3 linked regions of the Homo sapiens genome follow. The protein of the gene in region 1 purifies or fractionates together with the protein of each later gene. This does not show direct contact. Each region holds a gene or a part of one and is shown in the gene's direction. Other genes may lie near its edges.

Region 1 (7,021 bases):
AGGTGGTTCATTTGAGGTCAGGAGTTTGAGACTAGCCTGGCCAACATGGCGAAAAACCGTCTCTGCTAAAAAAAATACAAAAATTAGCTGGACGTGGTGACGAGTGCCTGCAATCCCAGCTACTTGGGAGGCCGAGGCATGAGAATCACTTGAACCCAGGAGGCGGAGGTTGCAGTGAGCCCAGATCACACCACTGCACTCCAGCCTGGGTGACAGGGGAGACCCCATTTCAAAAACAAAACAAAACAAAACAAAACAAACAAACAAAAACCTATAAACCAAATTTCTCCCAAAGTTAGCTTGGCCTATATCCAGGAATGACCAAGGACATCTTGGCAGTCAGAAACAAGATGGAGTCAACTATGTCAGATTTCTGTTACTGTTATAATTTTGCAAAGGTGGTTTCACTGTCAGATCCTGGCCTCTGGGTCCAATGTGGAATGAATTCCTTGGATCTTTGAAGCACATTGTCCATGAATATTCACTTATTTTGTGGAAAAGCAGAGTAGAAAAGTGATGAATTAACACCAAAAGCAACACATTACAGGCGGCTTGTGACCTGTTGATTTTTAAGGTCAAGGAGGGGTGGTGGGGAATCCTGGGAGTCAAAATTACACTTAAATAATACTGAATTTTCCCATTATGTCTCCTACCTTGACACACATCATTCTCATGGATTCCCATTTGATGATTTCTAGAATATTAATGAAACTTTATCATCTTGGTGAGAAAAGCATTCTAATAGCTTTATTCTGACATACGGAGGTATGGAGAGCTTGAAGGAGTCAGAGAGGTCAGTTGTTTTCCTTATTAGTAATCTGGCATATTATTATTGTAAAAGTATAAGACGATTAATTTGGAAATGTAGATAGGATTATGTAACTCATTAGTTCTTAATAGAGGGAGGTCGTGATACCTGTATTATTAGGGAACATAACTGAATTCTTTTCCTTTTCCCGTAGGTGCCCAGCTAAGACCTGAATGCCATCACCCTCCCCAGGGCTCTGCAGTTTTCTCGTGGTGAACCCTTGATGGATTTGTTGTTGCTTGAGAAATGGCGATGATCGAATTGGGGTTTGGAAGACAGAATTTTCATCCATTAAAGAGGAAGAGTTCATTGCTGTTGAAACTCATAGCTGTTGTCTTTGCTGTGCTTCTATTTTGTGAATTTTTAATCTATTACTTAGCGATCTTTCAGTGTAATTGGCCTGAAGTGAAAACCACAGCCTCTGATGGTGAACAGACCACACGTGAGCCTGTGCTCAAAGCCATGTTTTTGGCTGACACCCATTTGCTTGGGGAATTCCTAGGCCACTGGCTGGACAAATTACGAAGGTAAGAGGTAAAATCAGGAATCTTTCTAAAATTCTGTAGGCAAAACGGTATAGCCCTCTCCTCATAGGCAAGGCTTATGGCTTTAGGTTACTCTTAGTTATTTTCCTCTCAAAGGAGGACATTTAGGGACATTTGACTTTTCCTTGAATTTACCATTTACTGAGGATATATACAGGGCCCCATAATTTGGGAGTCAGATCTGGGCCACATCGCTTTGTGACTTTGGACAAGTTGTTAGGGCCCCTCTGAGCCCCTGCCTCCTTGTTTGTAACTGGATTAAGACAAGAAACATCACAAGATGTGCCACGCAATGACAACAAGATGCTACACAATGCCTGGTGCCTGGGACTGGTCCCCTGGGCAGGGGAGGACACAGATGTGGGTTGGTGGTCCCATCTCACCTTCATTGCTGTGTAACTTTGAGCCTATTGGGTTTCAGCCTCCTCTAGGCAGCAGAGGAGCAGAGCAGATTTGTGGCTGTCACCCTGGGGAAGGATCAGGTCCTATCTTTCCAACTCACACCTGCCCCTGCATGGTCCATTGTTTTTTTCACCAGGAAGCTTTTTAAACAAATTATTTTTAGGCCAGGTGCACTGGCTCACGCCTGTAATCCCAGCACTTTGGGAGGCCAAGGCAGGTGGATCACCTGAGGTCAGGAGTTCAAGACCAGCCTGGCCAACATGGTGCAACTCCATCTCTACTAAAAATAGAAAAATTAGCTGAGCATGATGGCGGGCGCCTGTAATCTCAGCTACTCCGGAGGCAGAGGCAGGAGAATCGCTTAAACCTGGGAGGCAGAGGTTGCAGTGAGCTGAGATTGCACCACTGCACTCCAGCCTGGGCAACAGAGCAAGATTCCATCTCAAAAAAAAAAAAAAAAAAAAAAAAGAATAAAGAATAAGAATAATGAAAGAGCAGCTATACCTTTTTACTAAGAGTTTTAACCAAAGGAGGCATGAGCTCAAGAAGGGCCGGTGGGGGGCCTGCAGTGTCTTGGTCTTACAAATTGATCCTGATTGATGTCTGGTCTCGCCAAGTAGCCTTCTGTACCTTCTTCCTGCTGCTGTTTCTAGATTTTTACTTCCCATGGTGAATAACATTAAATCAAGAGAGACTGAGAAGCTGGGTGCAGTGCTTCACGCCTGTAATCCCAGCACTTTAGGAGGTGGAGGTGAAGAACTGCTTGAGGCCAGGAATTTGAGACCAGCCTGGGCAACGTGGCAAGACCTCATTTCTACAAAAAAACAATAAACAAAAACCAAAAATAGCTAATTTTTGCTCTTTATGCCCGCTTGTAGTCCTAGTGACTCAGCAGGCTGAGGCAGGAGGATCGCTTGAGCTACTTTGAGCACCAGAGTTTGAGCCTCCAGTGAGCTATGACCATGGCACTGCAGTCCAGCCTGGGCGACAGAGCAAGAGCCTGTCTCTAAAAAAAAAAAAGTAAAATAAAATAAGAAAAACGGAGAAATGTATTTTGAGAGAGATCTTGGGTAAAAAGCCTTTCAGGGGTGATGTGTACCATTCAGTTCACTTGGGATCTAAAAATCTTCCTCTGACCAGAAATTACATTGACTGATTAAAATGGGGTCTAGCTCTGTTGCCCAGGCTGGAGGGCAGTAGTAGGATCATAGCTCACTGCAGTCTCCCAAGTAGCTAGGACAACAGGCTTGTGCCACTACGCCCAGCTAATTTTTACTTTTTTGTAGAGATGGAGTTTTGCTGTGTTGCCCATGCTGGTTTTGAACTCCTGGCCTCAAGTGATCCTCCCTCCTTGGCCTCCCAAAGCATTGAAATTACAGGTGTGAGTCACTGCACCCAGCCTACTTTCCCCTATTTATATATCCCAGGACATAGCATTTCCCTTTTGTAGAGGAGGAGCAGCCAGGAAAATGCCTTAAAAAGGAGGAAAGGTTTGGATTCCTTAGAAAAATGACATAGGCTGGATTTGGTTAGGTTGAAGACGGGGAGGGCTGAGCAAACACTGACATTTTTGAGCACCTGCTGTGTGCCTGTGCCATGCTTTACAAATGCTGTCTTATTTAACCCTGTAACTATCCTGTGCAAGTAGGGTTTAAAATCCCCATTTACCGGCCGGCCGGGTGTGGTGGCTCATGCCTGTAATCCCAGCACTTTTGGGAGGCTGAGGCGGGTGGATCACCAGAGGTCAGGAGTTCGAGACCAGCCTGACCAACATGGAGAAACCCCGTCTCTACTAAATATACAAAATTAGCTGGGTGTGGTGGCACATGCCTGTAATCCCAGCTACTTGGGAGGCTGAGGCGGAAGAATCATTTGAAACGGGGAGGCAGAGGTCGCATTGAGCCGAGATCACACCATTGTACTCCAGCCTGGGCAACAAGAGCGAAACTGCATCTCAAAAAATAAATAAATAAAATAAAATAAAATCGCCATTTACCAATGAAGACACTGGGCATCAGAATAGGCAATTTTTTCAAAGCCTCACAGCTTTTCAATGGATTGAGCTGGGATGTTAAGCCATCATCTGTCAGATTGCAGATCCCAGGCTGTTTTTTTTTTTTTTTTTTTTTTTTGAGATGGAGTCTCGCTCTGTCACCCAGGCTGGAGTGAGTGCAGTGTCATGATCTCAGCTTACTGCAACCTCCGCCTCCTGGGTTCAAGCAATTCTCCTGCCTCAGCCTCCCAAGTAGCTGGTACCACAGGCGCATGCCACCATGCATGGCTGGTTTTTTGTATTTTTAGTAGAGACAGGGTTTCATGATATTGGCCAGGCTGCTCTTGAACTCCTAACTTTATGATCTGCCCACCTCGGCCTCCCAAAGTGCTGGGATTACAGGCATGAGCCACCATACCCAGCCTCCAGGCTCTTTTCATTTGCTTGTCTTACCTCTGGGAGGATTACTCGCATGTCTGAAATCTCCAGGATTTCCTGTTTTGATATTGGTTCCTGTTTTGATATTAGCTAGCCTATTTCTCTTGTCATCTCCCCTCCAACTTGGAAGCAAAGAAGGAAGTTGAAGTCCCTTTAATAAGAAGCTAAAATTAAGCTAGATACAATAATCTCCTCTGTGTGGTACAAAATCAGTCTACATTGAGCATCTTTGGAAGCTGCATTAGGCTCTCTCAGATCCCAGTTGCTGTCTTGACCGAGTGATGGCTGCAGGGTGCAGAGTGGGGCCTGTTCCTGCACACCACAGTGTCTGGGGTGTGTGGAAGGGATGGCCGGACTCTTCTCTGATACTTAATTCCCCACCTTTAATCAGATATGGACTCTTTGGCCCTTCAAGCCAGGGATGGGAATGCAAGAGTGGGGCTCTGGAAGAAGGAGAGTGGAACCATTTAGTTTGCTGTTTAAATGGTGCATAATACAGAAGTAGCCTCCACCTAGGAAAGAGACTGATGCCTTACTTTTTCCTATTGGCATCAAGGGAATGGCAGATGGAGAGAGCGTTCCAGACAGCTCTGTGGTTGCTGCAGCCGGAAGTCGTCTTCATCCTGGGGGATATCTTTGATGAAGGGAAGTGGAGCACCCCTGAGGTAGGACTCTGTGTTCCAGGTGCCCTCATCCTGCTGTGAGGTCCAGCACAAGTATCCCAGAGAATCCACGAATCAGTGTCAGCTTGAGCTGGAGATTTTATGGAAGTTGTACTTACTACTGATATTAAAAATGCGTAGGCTATTTGGAAGATGATTAGAATTCATAGGCTATCTAAGATTATTAGAACAACTCAATCTTGAGTTAGGTTGGCTAATTGTAAACATTTGTCTATGTAGGAAATATGTCGATTAGCCAGATATCATTTAGTTGGAATACACTGTTTTGTGAACCTCTTGGGAAAGGGAGAAACGGGCAAGATAGATGTTATTTCAGTTGTCACCGAAATTGCAAAATACATATTGAAATGTACATTTAATTTCACACTCTTATTGAACCATGACATTATGAGAATCGTGCTGCAAAAGAGACTTGCTATTCTCCTCTGATTTTCTTTTTTCTGAATGAGAGATGCAGAAGGAGCGCTGGGGACTTGATGTGAGGATCCTCTGCTTTCAGAGGGGGCTGAGACCCCTGCCTGGGTATTGGGGTAATATAAGACTTTCCACAAACCAAAGAGAAAAGCTGTTCTCACCTTAGTTGTCACAGTGTTTTGCTTATTATATCCTTGGAACAAAACGAATGAAGACATGAGCTGTTCTTGCTGCTTAAAAATGTTCAGTCACTAATGGTTTTTGGAAAATCTTCAATTTGGGGTATAGTATAAAAAACTTCATCACATGCCCGTAGTACCAGCACTTTGGAAGGCCAAGGCAGGAGGATTTTTTTTTTTTTTTTGAGATGGAGTTTCACTCGTTGCCCAGGCTGGAGTGCAATGGCGCAATCTCAGCTCACTGCAACCTCTGCCTCCCAGGTTCAAGCGATTGTCCTGCCTCAGCCTCCTGTGTGCTAGGATTACAGGCATTTCCTGTGTCACCACGCCCGGCTAATTTTGTATTTTTAGTAGGGACAGGGTTTCTCCATGTTGGTCAGGCTGGTCTCAAACTCCTGACCTCAGGTGATCTGCCCACCTCGGCCTCCCAATGTGCTGGGATTACGGGCATGAGCCACCGTGCCTGCCCTTTCTTTTTCTTTTTCTTTTTTTTTTTTTTTTCTTTTTGGTGCTATGGGGGATGGAGTCTCACTCTGTCACCCAGGCTGCAGTGCAGTGGTGTGATTTTGGCTCACTGCAACCTCCGCCTTCTGGGTTCAAGCGATTCTCCCTCCTCAACCTCTCGAGTAGCTGAGATTACAGGCACACACCACCATGCCCTGATAATTTTTTGTATTTTAGTAGAGATGGGGTTTCACTGTGTTGCCCAGGCTGGTCTCGAACTCCTGAGCTCAGGCAATCTGCCCACCTTGGCCTCCCAAAGTGCTGGGATTATAGGCGTGAGCCGCTGCGCCAGACCTAGTCCAAGGCAGGAGGATCGTTTGAGCCCAGGAATTCAAAACCAGCCTGGGCAACTTAGTGCTGTTTCTACAAAAAATACAAAAATCAGCCAGGCGTGATGGTGCACGCCGCTACTCAGGAGGCTGAAGTGGGAGGATCGCTTGAGCCTGGGAGGTCAAGGCCACAGTCAGCTGTGCACCACTGCATTCCATCCTGGGTGACAGAGTGAGACGCTGTCTCAAAAAATCAAGATAAAAATCAAGGAAGACAAACAACCCAAACAAAAACAAAACAAAACAAAAAAAACCCCACAACAAAAATCCAAAAAACCTTACTGGCATTTCCTAGGACAATTCAATAGCTGCACAAGAGAAGTCTTGTTTCAGAGTTGATAGGAACCAGTTTACAGAGTTGCAATGTTTGTTATTATCTAGGCTATAATTAAATGTGAGATAGTGGAAATGTTATATGTAAAAACAACTAGTTACAAAATGAGGTTGGATAGATATGTTGCTTTTCCAAATTAAGGGCAACATTTTATGTTTTTCTATGTCTGTTATTCTGATTTTATGTTACTCTAACTTTATATTTTTTTATTTTTTTCAGCTGGTGTCTTGCTCTGTCACCAAGTCTGGAGTGCAGTGGCGTGATCTCAGCTTACTACAACCTCTGCCTCCCTGGTTCAAGTGATTCTCCTGCCTCAGCCTCCTCGAGTAGTTGGGATTACAGGCACCCGCCACCACACCCAGCTAATTTTTGTATTTTTAGTAGAGACAGGT
Region 2 (7,444 bases), on another chromosome or scaffold:
CATGGTCTCGACCTCCTGACCTCGTGATCCGCCTGCCTCAGCCTCCCAAAGTTCTGGGATTACAGGGGTGAGCCACCGCGCCCGGCCCTTTAATCTTTTATCTTCAGGATTTTTATTAGGGTACCAAATATTAAATTATAGTATGATTTTTAGCATCCTTGAGTACAAACGTCTCTGCAGATTTTCAGGTTGTTGAAACTAGTTAGCTGAGGGAGCAGAGAGCAGGGTCTGCATCTTGGCCCTGGAGCCCCTCTAGCTCCTGTGATGGTGGAGAAGGCATAGCTCTCTTACACTTTACTGTTTCTCCATTTCTCCCAACACAGCTTATATATATATATATATATATATATATATATATATATATATATATATATATATATTTTTTTTTTTTTTTTTTAAGACGAAGTTTCACTCTTGTTGCCCAGGCTGGAGTGCAATGGCGCGATCTCGGCTCACCGCAACCTCTGCCTCCCGGGTTCAAGCAATTCTCCCGCCCCAGCCTCCTGAGTACCTGGGATTACAGGCATGCGCCACCACGCCCAGCTAATTTTTGTGTTGTTAATAGAGACGGGGTTTCTTGAACTCCCGGCTGGCCTCGAACTCCCGACCTCAGGTGATCCGCCTGCCTCCACCTCCCAAAGTGCAACCCAGCTCATATTTTTAGAAAGCTAATGAGTAGAATAATTTATAATCATCTCTATAAATGTATATAAATTAACTAAATGCCTTTTGTTTCATTATACTGTGTTGGCTTAGAATGCCAGAGTTTAAAACCACAGCTTCATCATTTACTGTTCTGTAACTCAGAGAAAAACACTTAATTTCTATAAATTTCTGTTTTGTATATAAAAATGGGATAATAAATTGTAATCATGTCATTAGGCTGTTATAAGGTTTAAATAATATACATAAAGCACTTAACACAATTAGCATAATAAATGCTGGCTACTACAATGATAATATTTCTATGAGTTGTTCTTCATATGAGAGGCATCACCCATCATTATGAGCTAATTAAATTCATTCATAAATATATGGACAAGAAAGTTACAGCAAAAGCAGTTTTAAAATATTTTAGGCCAGGCACAGTGGCTCATGACTGTAATCCCAGCACTTTGGGAGGCCGAGGCAGGTGGATCACCTGAGTTCAGGAGTTTGAGACCAGCCTGGCCAACGTGGTGAAACTCCGTCTCTATTAAAAATACAAAAATTAGCTGGGCGTGGTGGTGGGCACCTGTTATCCCAGCTACTTGGGAGGTTGAGGCAGGAGAATCGCTTGAACCTGGGAGGAGGAGGTTGCGTGAGCTGAGATTGTGCCATTGCACCCTAGCCTTGGTGACAAGAATGAAACTCTTGTCTCAAAAAAAAAAAAAAAAAAAAAAAGTGGCTCATGCCTGTAATCCCAACATTTTGGAAGGCCGAGGCAGGAGGATTGCTTCAGCTCAGGAATTCAAGACCAACCTGGGCAAGCTAGCAAGCCCTCGTCTTCACTTAAAAAAAAAAATTAGCAGGGCATGGGGGCATGTGCCTACAGTCCCAGCTACTCAGGAGTCTGAGGTAGGAAGATGGCTTCAGCTCAGGAGGTCAAGGCTGCAGTGAGCCATGATCTATCTTGCCATGGCACTCCAGCCTGGGTGTCAAAGCAAGACCCTGTCTCAAAAAAATAAAATATAATATCTTTGTTTCTTGCTCTCCCTCTTGTCATCTTCTAGGGGTCTTTCAAAAAGTTCAAAAATATGTAGATGACTAACTCTGGAAAATACTGGAGTAGACTGTGTTGTAATAGAAGTGCAGTGACTCACTCACTCCCAGAAACTGGAAACAGATACAAATCAGGTCCCAGATTTCCTTTTGGCATCAAGCCTGCTTTAAATTGCAGAAAAAGATGGACTCAAATTTTGATTGTGGGAATGATGAAAATGACAATGAAATCGGCTACTGAAAAAGGAAATATATCAAGGTTTGGAATCAAAAGGTATTATCTGGTGAAAGAATAAAGACATTTTAATATATACTTTGTTTTCTGTAGTATTAGAAATATTTTAGAATATCTTCTCCTATATGAAAGATTACCTTCAAAGAAGAGAAAGCATCTAATGTGCACAGAACCGCAGTGGGTTGCTGTCAGGCAACTTGAACTCTTTTTATGATAGAGGATATCAAGTTGACATGAGCTGACTCAAAGGAACATCAAAGTACTCACCGTATTAACATTGACAGATTTATTTGTCGTGTAAGCAACTGCCAAGTTAATTCTGTCTTTTGTTTCTCAGATTAATGTGAAGGCTCAGTAAACCAAGCTGAGTTTTCCAATGGACAAGTGGAACTCAGCCACAAAGCTTGTTTAAAGTTTTGTTGTAACTCATTAGAGTTGTGGTATGGTGCTTTTTCCCCAAATGATGGGGTTTTTTAAATGAAATTCCGTAGCGCTCATGGGTGCATGTAGCAAAACAATGGCCTAAAGAGAACCATTTCATACAAAACAGTAAAATTTTTGATTATTAAATAATACTGTCAACCACTTAGACATTATTTGTCCAACAAACCCCCACTGAGGGCTTACTCTAGCAAGCTGTTTGCTTTAAGGTTTGGCCACCCTCTTCCTGGAGCTCACATCTATCTGACGAGACAGATAAACAATAAAGAATAATGGACAGTTAGACCATGGGAAAGGCTTTGTAAGAAAACAGAGAGCCTCAACTTTACCTATTATCTTTTCATATAGACGTACTTTGTAACCTTATATTACTAATTCAAATTATACAGATCCACATGTCATGTTTTCTGACTTCCAGATTCTTTTTTTTTTTTTTGGAGACGGAGTCTCGCTCCACCGCGCAGGCTGGAGTGCAATGGCGCGATCTTGGCTCACTGCAACCTTCGCCTCCTGGGTTCAAGCGATTCTCCTGCCTCAGCCTCCCTAGTAGCTGGAATTACAGGTGCGTGCCAGTATGCCTGGATAATTTTTGTATTTTTAGTAGAGATGGGGTTTCACCATGTTGGCCAGGCTATTCTCGAACTCCTGACCTCAAGTGATCCACCCGCCTCGGCCTCCTAAAGTGTTGGGATTACAGGCGTGAGCCACTGCACCCGGCTTCTAGATTCCTTTTTTTTTTTTTTTTTTTAATAGACTCAGGCGATCCTCCTGCCTGCGTTTGCTGCATAGCTGGGAGTACAGGCACAAATGACCACGCCCATCTCCAAATTCATTTTTAATTCCAGCAGTAGGAAAAAAAGGAAAAGGCCAAGTTTGCAGATGGAACCCAGAAGTGTGTGGGGCTTCGCTGTGAAATCACTTGTAGCTTAACAATGGCGTGGGGAATCTCAGAGTAAGCCCGGAGTTAGTTGAAAGGAGTCTTTAGCCAAAACGTTTATAATTTATTCTGGGGCGGGGCCGGGGGAGGGGGCGGTGGCGGTCAGCAGGCCTGTGGGAGGAGGGTGTTCAAAGGAGTAAAGGGGGCTCAAAGAGAGAAATAGATTCTTGTTTCCTTTTTCATGTCAAAAGTTTTATTTCATGTCAAAAGTTTTATTTCAAAGGAAGACTAAATATTACTCTTATTCTGCCTGAATGGCCAAGTTTCCAAGTTTTTCTCAATCAACATGCAATCCTGTTAATCTAAAATGCTTGAATTTCTTGCTACTCTGCTTTACAGGGTTCCGTAACTTTTTTTTTTTTTTAAATCTGCAAGGTGGAAGAAAAGTCTAACACTTTCACTTTAGAGTTACGATACTGACCAAAAAGGCACTGACAGCCCAGGTGCGCTGGCTTCCTTCCAGCTGAGCGCTGTCCCCGCGCCGCCTCCAGGGGTCGGCAGAATGCTGAACAGTAAGCATGGCGCATCCTCAACCTTGGCCCCACAATGAATCACCCGAGAAAATTAAAAAACCACCAGGGCCCGAGCCGCAGCCCAGGCTGGAAAGTGGGGTGTTCAGGAAGACCCCAGTACTTTTTAAAGCTGCCCGGGAGAGTCCCACGTGCAGCCAAGGGTGGGGAATTACCCACTTAATAAAAACTTCCCCTGTAAATGCGATGTTTCATTTTTAATGTATAACAGTTTTCTGAAATATTACCGTTGTTTTCATCGTATAGGTACATGTACATGTGCACACACAGACACATGCATGTGTGTAAATACTAATTTTAAAAATAATGGTTACGAGGACATTTACATCGCTCCAGTTGGAGTCCTGTCCAATCCTGAGGGCGGGTCTAATGAGGGGCCGTACCTTCCAAGATTTCACTCCGCCCCTCGACGCCGCGCGGCGCTGCGCGTGCGCAAACGCCTTTCCCTGGCGAGCCGGATCTCGGAGCGTCCCCGCGCCTCTCCGCGGCCGCCCGGGGAGGGGAGGGCCCGTCCCGCCCCTCCCCGTCTCTCCCCGCCCCTCCCCGTCCCTCCCGCCGAAGCTCCGTCCCGCCCGCGGGCCGGCTCCGCCCTCACCTCCCGGCCGCGGCTGCCCTCTGCCCGGGTTGTCCAAGATGGAGGGCGCTCCACCGGGGTCGCTCGCCCTCCGGCTCCTGCTGTTCGTGGCGCTACCCGCCTCCGGCTGGCTGACGACGGGCGCCCCCGAGCCGCCGCCGCTGTCCGGAGCCCCACAGGTAGGGCAGGGCGGGCCTGGCTGGCCGCTTTACGACTCCGACTCTCCGGGAGGCCCGGGCTGTCCACAGTGACGCTTCCCACATCCCACCGGCGGGCAGGGGCGGGGGTCCGGGCCCCCGAAGGAGGTGTGGGGAGAAGCACCCCAGGAAATGGGGGCGGCGTGGGAGGCCGAGGTAAGAGGAAAGGGACCCACTGGGGCTGCGTCGCTGTGAGTGAGCCTCGAGCCACTCCACACCGACTCTCCGGCGGCCCAAGCCGGCGCGCGACCTGACGGGGCTTTGCCGTCGAAGCGCGCGGTTGCCGGTGATCAGGCCTTCGTAATGGCGCCTTCCCGGGGTAGAGCCAGCGCTTGGGCAAGGAATGTTTGTGTGCTCGGGAAGTGTGGAAGTTGCCCACTTCGCGCATTTCCAGGCCACTTGTGCCTGCTCGGCCTGCGATCGCGAGGGTCCGCCGTTCCGAGGCTGCGGGGCTCCGCCGGGCTCAGGTGGGCAGAGGGAGAGACCTGGCCCTCGCGCGACGTAATGTTTTTGTCGGATGTTGGAGGAGAAGTTCTCACGGCGGGGCGCGATCGGCGGTGTCCGCATCCCCTGGGGACTCAGCCCGGCCTCTGGGGGCGGGGCCCAGCAGTCCGGGTTGGAGAGTCCTGCAGGTGCTTCTGATGCCAGCTGAGGTGGGAGAATCGAGGCATCCTAACATTAAAACGTGGCTGATGCTCACCATTCCTGCCGTAGAGTCGTGCCTACCTAGGCCAGTATCAGCCTTTTTTCAGTAGAATGGTAGGGAAAAGTTTGAATATTTTAAAGAGCAAGTGTTCTGAGAATGACAAGAAACTATGTCGGTACACCTCTTCCTAGTCAAGACTTGAATATGAACACTCTAAATACAAAGGCGAAGGGCACGGTAAGTGTCACTTTGACCAACAAGGTGAAACCCCGTCTCTACTAAAAATAGAAAAATTAGCTGGGCGTGGTTGCAGGTGCCTGTAGTCCCAGCTACTCGGGAGGCGGAGACAGGAGAATTGCTTGAACCCGGGAGGCAGAGGTTGCAGTGAGCCGAGATCGTGCCACTGCATTCCAGCCTGGGTGAGGGAGCTCAAAACAAAACAAACAAACAAAAACAAAAAAACCAAGTGTTAACGTTTTAGGATAATGACATTACCCCACGTGGGTACAAAAATGATGAGCATGTCTCAGTTCTGCAGGGCATTCCAAGAAGCCACGACATTGCCTGCCATAAGAACCACCTATATCTGAAATTATATGTGGACCACAGTTGCATCTGGTTAAACAATAGGAATGTGATGGACAGGCACCAAGGGACCAAATAAAAGTGAAATAGTTCTAAAAAGTTCTGGAAATACGGACATTATTTTCCTATTTTTCAAGTTTTAAAGATTCATAATTGACACCTATGTGTCAATGAGATGTTTACGTCTATATAATCTGCGAAAAATACATTTTGACTGCAGGCTTAAAATACACTGCATTGTCGGCTGGCTCTTAGTGATGATTTTACTATTTCAGTTCTCCCTTCTTGGGCCTTCATTTCACTTTCAGAAAGTCCAGATCTAAACTCGGAAATTCACATATTACGCTGGGTGCAGTGGCTCACGCCTGTAATCCCAGCTACTGGGAATCCAAAGCCAGAGGATTGCCTGAGACCAAGAGTTGGGTGTTGGATGATAAGCCTGGTTAACATAGCAAGAGCCTGTCTCAACAACAAAAAGTTTCACAGATTAAATGAGTGCTGAACAACTAGAAAGAGAATCTCATTACCTGGACTGTGTCTGTGGGAAACTGAAGTCCCTTGATCTAAGTCTTCTCAACGTCTTATTGTGAAACATTTCCAATAGGAAAGAATTTCACAGTGGTCCCACATATTGTGTAAGTGCTGTCCAGTAGAACTTTCTGCCTTGATGGTTATGTCTTTTCTCACCTTGTGGGTAGCCACTAGACTGCTGTGGCCACTGAGCACTTGAAATGTGGCCAGTGCCAGTGAGGAACTGTTTTTAAATTTTTATTTAATTTTAATCAATGTAAATGTAAATAGTCACAAGTGATTAGTGTGTACCATATTGAACAGTGCAGAACCAGACTACCCTTAACATTACTAGCTTTATCACATCTGTCCATCCTCGTTTCCAGTCTGATATAAATTAAACTGGTTGAAGTCAGGAAAATTCTGCCTTCTTCCGATGACTCAGATTTATTGGACTATAAGCATTTTTCTGTTTTTATGTATGCAGTTGTCAGAAGTTGAGGTAATACAAGATTGCACATAAGATTGAAAAATAAAAGTCTTTTTTTTTTTGAGACGGAATATCTCGCTCTGTCTCACACAGGCTGGAGTGCAGTGGCATGATCTCGGCTCACTGCAGCCTCTGCCTCCCAGGTTCAAGTGATTCTCCTATCTCAGCCTCCTGAGTAGCTGGTACTACTGGCGCGTGCCACCACACCTGGCTAGTTTTTGTATTTTTATTTTTATTTTTTTATTTTTTGTTTTTTATTTTTGAGAGAGAGTCTCACTCTGTCTCCCAGGCTGGAGTGCACTGGCATGATCTCGGCTCACTGCAACTTCTGCCTCCTGGGTTCAGGTTCAAGTGATTCTCCTGCCTCAGCTTCCCAAGTAGCTGGGATTACAGGCTCCCGCCACTGCGCCCAGCTAATTTTTTTATATTTTTAGTAGAGATGGGGTTTCACCATGTTGGCTAGGTTGGTCTCGAACTCCTGACCTCAAGTGATCCACCCGCCTCAGCCTTCCAAAGTGCTGGGATTACAGGTGTGAGCCACTGCGCCCGGTCACTTTTTTTTTTTTTTTTTGACGTGAAGTCTCGCTCTGTCCCCCAT
Region 3 (7,579 bases), on another chromosome or scaffold:
CATTAAATCTATAAGAGCCTGAGGCTTTTCTGTATAGGAGGGAGTATGTTGTCTCCTATTTCAGAGATCAGTAGTAGAGAAGGGCTGATAAATGAAGAGCCATTCTCCCCCTTGGACTTCATTCTGTGCATTCAAATAAATTTGTCCCCATGTTTATCGGAGGGACATCTGCATTGCTTGGGCATGACCTGACCTAAGATAGCCAACCTCATCCCCCTGGAATTCCTCCCTTGGGTTTTCAGGTAAGGGCTCTGACTTCTGTCTGCGTGGTGTTGCCTGAGGGATGCTTTCTTCTGAGTCTGAGCCTCCAGAGGCAGCCAGGGCAGCCTCCTGTCTAAGCCTTGCCAAGGATGGATAAATTGGTGCATAGGGGGTAGAGTTTCTAACTCTTCAGATGGGGCCTGTAGGACAGGTTTTTTCTGCTTTTCCTGTGACTCTTTTTCTTTTTCTGATGACTTGCAGTCTCTTTCTATTGTTCCTGGTTTTGTCCAAGCCATTAAAGTCTTATGGTAGGTCTCAAAGCAGGTCTGCAGCCACTTAGGGCGGGTCTGAATTACACTTAGCTGGGAGTCTGTATACGGGAACTGATCTGGGTGCCTGGGCTATTCTCCAAGCCCAGTGACCACCTGAAACACTTGGCCAATTATCTCCTTGTGTATTGTCCCCTCGGCCAGCCACCCTACATTAAAAGACAGCCGGTTTATCTCACAAAAGGTTCTCAGTTTCTGTGGAGTTAGCTTAACCATTTAATCACCATTTAAACCTTTTGTAAAAGTTTTTCAGCATGCACTCCAGTGGAGTAGGCTTTGATGCTTTTCCTCCCATTTCTTCCCTCACGGCATGCTTTCACTGTCACTTTCACTCTTGGATCCACCAGACCAGGTCCTATTATGGGAGGTTCGGATGCTGCTTAGCCAGGAGAGTGCCTTCATTCCTGTTACAGCTAGCTGCAGCCATGGTGGATGCTGCTTAGCCAGGAGAGTACCTTAATTCCTGTTACAGCTAGCTGCAGCCATACAGCTGGTCCTATGGGCTGTATGCAGTGTTCTAGGTCTGGTTTTTCCCACACTCGCCTCAGAGCACACAGTGCATGCTAAGAGATCTGTGCCTCCCCATGTCACACCCCGCATTGGTCTCTCCTGAGACTGTCTCACACACCTCCCCCGTCCCTGAAACTGTTTTCCTTTCTGACTGACGTGCGAGCCCCACCTGCATCTGGTGTCGGTTAGGGCGTGAGTTTTGTCTGAATCAATGGGCCTCTCCCATTGTCCCAACCCCCTCGGGTCAGATCAGTCATCATGCCCTGGGAGATGATCAGGCTCCCCTTCCGTCCTTATGGGACGGGTCTTGCCTTAGGGCCCAAACTTTACCGTGGTTCAGATGGCTGTGCGCTGCTCCCGTGACCATCCTGCAACCCCTTCCACTGGTTCCATTTGTGCTGTCGGGGGAAGGCCCCAGAACGCGGGAGGGCAGTTCTCCTTCTGGGCTGAAACTCTCCTGGTGGTGCCAAGGACCCCAGATCTCCCATGTCCTGGGGCTGTAGCCCACAGGCAAAGGAGACAGAAAATGTTCCCTCTCCAATCCCGGATGAGCCCCCAGAAATGTTACAAGACAATCAAAGACTGGAGAGACTGAAAAAGGTTCAGGAGAGTCTATTAAGGTGATCACCGGCCCAGCCGGACATATGTCCAGAAAGTATGAGCCCCAAACTAAGGGCTTTTCCTACTTTTAAACATTTTAAGGCAGGAACTACATGAGGTGGGAAGCAAGTTACAGAAGCGAGAAACAAAGGCAGTTAATCAAGCATTACAACATTTCTTACATCTTGAGAAAAACATGTCTTGCAACCTAAACTTATTGGTCTTGTGACTGCAGCTGTGCAGGAGCTTGCTGGCCTGTAATAAACTTGAGTAATTTGGAGTTGGGGAGTATAGATAAGGTCCACTGTCCACAGAGACAGGACAGGCTGTTAACATTCTCCTTTAACTTGAGTGTAAGGGGGCAGGGATCACACTTTGCAGAAACTTTAAGAGGATTTTAAAATTTCTATTACTACTACTATTAAGTTACGTTTGATTTCATTAATTTCTTCTTCAAATTCTAGGAAGTCTGATCCCAGAGTTAATGGTGAATGATTACAAAACTTATATAATATCTCACATATGGTTGTTTATATTTTCCAATAAAGTTATATGGGGTGAATAATTATAACAAGTATTTCTGAAAAAAATAACAATTGAGAATACTGATATATATAGTCCACAGAAATAATGAGGGAATTTTAATACCATACTCCACATTGGCTGAAACTTTCTCACTGCAGGCTATGCTGTCCCATTCAACATTCTATAAACTAAAGATGATAGGGAGAATCTTGTTTAATCTGAATGGGAGCTTGAAGGATACATTAAATATGGAAAATATGCATCCTTCCTTAAAGAGAAGTAGCAAATGTTTTCATTATTCATTTATTCAACCACTTAGCCAATAATGTTAACAATTAAAGGTGGGAGCATTAAAAAAAGGAAAAGTGGGGTGGGGCGGTGAAATGAACCTCACTGATTTCTTGCTTTTATCATTTCAAACTCCAAAAGTGTATTTCAACTATTCATATGATGATTGAATAAACTTGTTTTACATTATGGAACACCCTTACTGTGTAGAGCTGTGAGAAATTCAATAATCAGTATTTAATGTGGACAAAAATAGATAGATTAGAGAAACAATAAACATGGACATATCTACACATAATATATACTCCTTTTCTATCCAAAAATCTGACAAAAACCTTACACAATGGTCAGTTTACACCATTTTAAGGACAAGGATGTGGTGAAACAATTTTAAACATTTTTATATAATAAAAGAAAAAAGTTGTTTTAATTGCTAATGATCAAGTTTTTACCAAGAATTTACATATGCATCATCAAACAGTAGCTTGAAACTGAAGCTTGACCTTTGAGAAATAAAGCTTTTAAAGTAAATGTCTAAATTCTCTTTTCTTTATTATGTTACATTTCATTTACTTTAGGTTTTCTAGTGCAATTTAAATAAGAAATAAATAGAGAGTATGGTAATCAGGTACAAAGGCTGTGAAAATATTCCCTGCATTTTGCACAGGGAATATGTTCAAATTCCTAATCTGCAAAGAAGAAAAGTGCATTTTCTTTTTTGAAATGGCATTTGAAGATCTCTCCATCCATGAACATTCTTGAGCATATGGATTTTACAATAACAGCAGTGTATATTAGTTTTTTAATTTATCATTAACTGATAACATATACAGTAAAATATAATTTCCGTTTTCTTATCTAAGGGCAGAAAATCCCAACCTATTTCTGAATCTCACTTTGGAACAAGGACAGAATGACCTGACATGGCATTTTTGATTTCCAACGTTTAAACGCATAACGTTTGTGTGCTATGGAAGCATCTTAGCTTCTGGAATTTATGCTCGACACGAAACATAAACAATAAACAATTCAGTCCACGTTATATAGACATATCTCATATATATATGAGATATATATATATAAAATATCTTACGCACATGCACACTTAGACTTTCTCGGTTTTCATGAAACTCACAATCTACCTCAGGCGCTCAAAGGCACTCGGCCTCTCAGGTCTGAGGCACCACAGAGAGGCTTCCTTGGGCACAGTTGCTTGCTGGTCAAGACGCCAACTTGGCAAGGTTATGCTGCTGGCAAAGGCAGATTCGTCAGAATAAAGTCGCCACAGGCTCAACCAGGCAAATCATGAATGGCCCTTTCAGCAGGAGCCTGAGAGGAGGGATGTTATTCAGCCCAGCAACCCTATTTACTTTTTTTCAGGATCCCCAAACTCGCGTTTTTTAAGGCTTTCCGCTACAAGAGAGCCAGAATTGAAGCCTGGGTTGGCGGCAGTGCAGGTACCTGCTCACCTAAGCATCCCTCTTTTAATTTTCCTAACTCCTCCACCCACTTGCCCAAGTATAACTTTTGAATGGATTCAGCAGAAGTGAGGCAGGAAAGGCAGGAAGATGAGAAAAGGCGCGACATCAACACGCAGAGCTCACTGAGCCGCCTTGATGATAAAAGGCGGGCACAGGGACTACGTGGGTGGTGGCAGAAAGGGCGCGGGACACGCCTCGCAAAGAGGGAAGAGTGGGCGGGGCCACGTGCCGTTGTCAGAGTTCGCAACTCGAGCGCCCAGAGGGCTCGCGAAAAGTCCCAGCCTGCAAGCCAACCTCGCTCAGCGGACGACTGGCCGGATCCCAACGCGCTGCCCCTTGCCCAGCCTGCGAGCGCGTGGTACGAAGGCGCGTCTGCATCCATGCCCCAGCCCGGGGAGCTGGAGGCGCTCGCAGTCAGAGGCGAGTGATGCTAGGCTGAGCGCGTGGCGGCCCGTGTCGTGCCCCGCTGAGCCAAGTGCGGAAGGGCAGCGGCGCGCTCCGACTCTGCTCGCCGCACGCAGGGCGGGGCGCGGCTGGGGGGCGGGGGGCCTGGCCGCCCGCTGGGAGCTGCGGACGAGCAGGCGCGCTGAGGACCCGAGGGAGGACACGGTTAAAGCATTGCTATCAACTGTGAACCCAGAGAGCCCTCCTTAGCCAACACGCTAACTCCGAAGCCTCCCTTACGCCCCCGAACCACCGAAGGCGGCGACACCTGATTCAGCGCACAAACACAGGTCCCTTCTGTCCCGGATACAATTACGCGGCAGACACACACTCAAACTCGCGCGGGGCAGCCAAGAGACGAGGTGAGCGGAGGGACCACGCCGTTCCAGAGGGCGGAAGGGGGGGCGGTCTGGGTGGAGGAGAGGGGCGTTGTTTGCTCCCTGAGGTGAGTGCCGGGCGAATGGCTGCTGTCCAGGGGCGGGGGGGTGGGAATTAGAAAGCACAGACAGGGTTGGGCTGAGGAAGTTAGAAGTGGTTAGTGGGGGTTGGCGGGGTAGGGAGAAAGGCTAGGGGTTGAGGGGGTGTGAAGGAGATCTTTTTAGGCTGGCCCCTCATAGCGCCCGCGATCCTGTTTCTGCCATATGGCATCCGTTCGAGGGTTCTCTCGCGTTTGTGCGCTCAAGGCAGAGGGAGGGTATAACGGGGAGGCGATTCGGCCGAGGACCTTGTACTTGACCCCTGAAGGGATGGGCACCGCGGAGCCCAGAGGCCAGAGCCAGCTGCCAGGGCAGGGATGGAGGTGGGGGACCAGGAGGAGCTTCGGGACCTCTTCAACTCCCCTTTACTCCGTCTTCCCCCTAAGGAGGAACAAGAGCGGGATGTGTTGGGGGTGGGGAATGTCTTGGGGCTGTACAAGCTCGCTGAGACTTTTCGGGGCCCGCCGTTTCCGCGTGCCCGCGCGACTCTCGACAATGGACAGTGTACAGTGGTGGCAGGGTTTCACGGGTCCCCGCGCCGATTTGGGAATGGTACGGGGTGCCCTTGCATTAGAGAAGCCTGTGCGGGCCCCCGGGATTAGAGAAGAGGTGAGCGCCTGCGGGCGGGGAGAGAAGGACGCGCTGCTGGCAAAAAGAAGGGCGCCTTCCATGGACTGGAGGAGCGGCGAGGGAGCCTGGTATGTGTGTTTTGGATTTGAAGGAGGCAAACCGCATCGGAGAGTGCAAGTAGATGCAGTGCGTCGGGGCAAAAGGACAATCTGAGGAGGTGGGCGGGGTACCCAATCTCTATATACAAGCTTTCTGGTTTAATTGAGGGTTTATAAAATTGAGTACGGTAAACCTGCCATTGTGCAGCACTTCCTTAGGAAAGGAATAGCCTCTGTACCTGTACCGCGAGTTCCCATCACCTTTCAGCATCTAGGCGGGGAGAGGAGAGAAGGTAGAGAACTTCTGAGAGAGTTCTGAGAACTAACGCGAATGGCTGGATTGCGCTAACTAGGCGTTCTTAGCAGGAAAATGTCGCCAAGGGAAGGAGTGGGTGGCGGTATCAAACCAGGCGTGCTCTGGAGAATCACCTTTATTATGAGCCAGTGTTAGCAGTGACGATAGAGTCTTTTATTTCTGGGGATCCTATTGGTAAAAATTAGAAAAAAACCACACTACTCCAAATACTCCAAAAATCTTCAGTCCCCTCAGGCTGTCACCTTGTACTACCAGTTTTTCAGTATCAATGACGTGAATGTTAGGGAGTTTGGCTAGATGCCAAATTGTTATCATTTCTGATAATTTCATGTTCAAAAACGTCTATATTCACTCAAAATTGGCGTGCTTCTGACATATCCCCAGAAAAAAATCACCACCATTTGAAGGAAGGATAGAAAGTGCCCTTTTTTCTTTTCTTTTTTAAAAACTTTTATTTTAGGTTTTGGGGTACATGTGAAGGGTTGTTACATAGGTAAACACATGTCACAGGGGTTTGTTTTACATATTATTTCATCACTCAGTTATTAAGCCCAGTACCCAATGGTTATCTTTAACCAATATTTTAATAGTGTTAAGAGTAACCATACTTTGTCCCCAGGAGATTTTAAAATTAGAGTCATGCATCTTAATATTATATGGTAAAGGAGACCAGAACTTTGTGTTACTTGAATTAAATCTTAGCCAGCTTAGTTTTCTCCTATAGAAACTGTCTCTTGGTGGTTTGAGGTTTTGCTTTAGGAATGTGTCTGTGTTCAGCAACTCTTCTAGATAATGCCAGAGAAAAACACTCTAGTATTGTATGATTTGCCTGCCACCTACAAGGTTAAGTTGACATCTAGTGTTGTGTGACTTAGTATTATACAAGTCTTTAAAAACTACAATAAAGCATAGTGCCCCGATATTTAGTAAAGGCTTGATACTCTATTAGGAGGTTGGGCATAACTGAACAGAAACTATACTTCTGACTTTTTCCAGGTAATACTACTATACAGGTTCAAACTCTTTTTAAATCTAAGATTTCCAGAGGACTATGCTTGTTGTATTTAAGCTTGGTACGCGTCTTAGAATAAATAAACCAATGCAGTAAATAAAGATGCTTATGACAATTTTTTTGGATAAAAACTACTTTTCGTTTAAAGATTTTGACAGTTTACATTTCCCAATAATTTAAATTAAAACATTTTATTGCACCTTATGAACAACTATCAGCTTCATTACCATTTAAATATTGCTAAAAATCCCATCTTCAATCCTCAAATCCTTTTTAAAATCATGCACCTGTTTATCAAATAATATCAATTTGTTGCTTTTTAATTCATACTAGGATTTTCCAACATACACCTGGGAATTTCTAAGATATCCTTGGAGAGTGAGAACTTTGATTATTTATGCAAGATATAGTATCTCATTTATTTGACCTCATCTGCATTGGTACTTATTTACATAAGCACATTTTCTCGGTAGCTGACTCTTCACACCGTTTATTACTGAAACTTAAAAAAAAAGAGCCATTATAACCCACAAGCAATTTCTAAATCTTACTGTCTTCCTTGTTCCCTTGGAGAATATTGGATATAAGTTATTCTTTCTTGTTGGGTTGTCTTTATGAATTCATAAAGAATTGAATAGTGCTATTCGCTGAGGTGTATAGAGCTGTTTTTGTTTATAGTAAATGGTCTCAGCCTGCTGGGTTGAAATACTAGAATAGAGACAGAAGTAC

What was found. The genes of interacting proteins can lie anywhere in the genome.
Region 2: the proteins of MPPE1 (region 1) and GINM1 purify together in Homo sapiens (affinity purification with mass spectrometry; 2 studies listed by BioGRID and IntAct, with this or other methods). This does not show direct contact.
Region 3: the proteins of MPPE1 (region 1) and UGT8 purify together in Homo sapiens (affinity purification with mass spectrometry; 2 studies listed by BioGRID and IntAct, with this or other methods). This does not show direct contact.

Annotation. Positions count from the first base shown.
Region 1 is NC_000018.10:11,891,298-11,898,318, reverse strand, and holds part of MPPE1 (metallophosphoesterase 1), read left to right. Parts: intron 1-698; exon of another isoform or gene 699-793; intron 794-962; 5' UTR 963-1,054; coding exon 1,055-1,335; intron 1,336-3,041; exon of another isoform or gene 3,042-3,134; intron 3,135-4,742; coding exon 4,743-4,851; intron 4,852-7,021.
Region 2 is NC_000006.12:149,561,938-149,569,381, forward strand, and holds the start of GINM1 (glycoprotein integral membrane protein 1 precursor), read left to right. Parts: upstream 1-4,437; 5' UTR 4,438-4,477; coding exon 4,478-4,597; intron 4,598-7,444.
Region 3 is NC_000004.12:114,594,235-114,601,813, forward strand, and holds the start of UGT8 (2-hydroxyacylsphingosine 1-beta-galactosyltransferase precursor), read left to right. Parts: upstream 1-4,572; 5' UTR 4,573-4,740; exon of another isoform or gene 4,741-5,641; intron 5,642-7,579. UniProt on the Homo sapiens protein: Catalyzes the transfer of galactose to ceramide, a key enzymatic step in the biosynthesis of galactocerebrosides, which are abundant sphingolipids of the myelin membrane of the central nervous system and peripheral nervous system.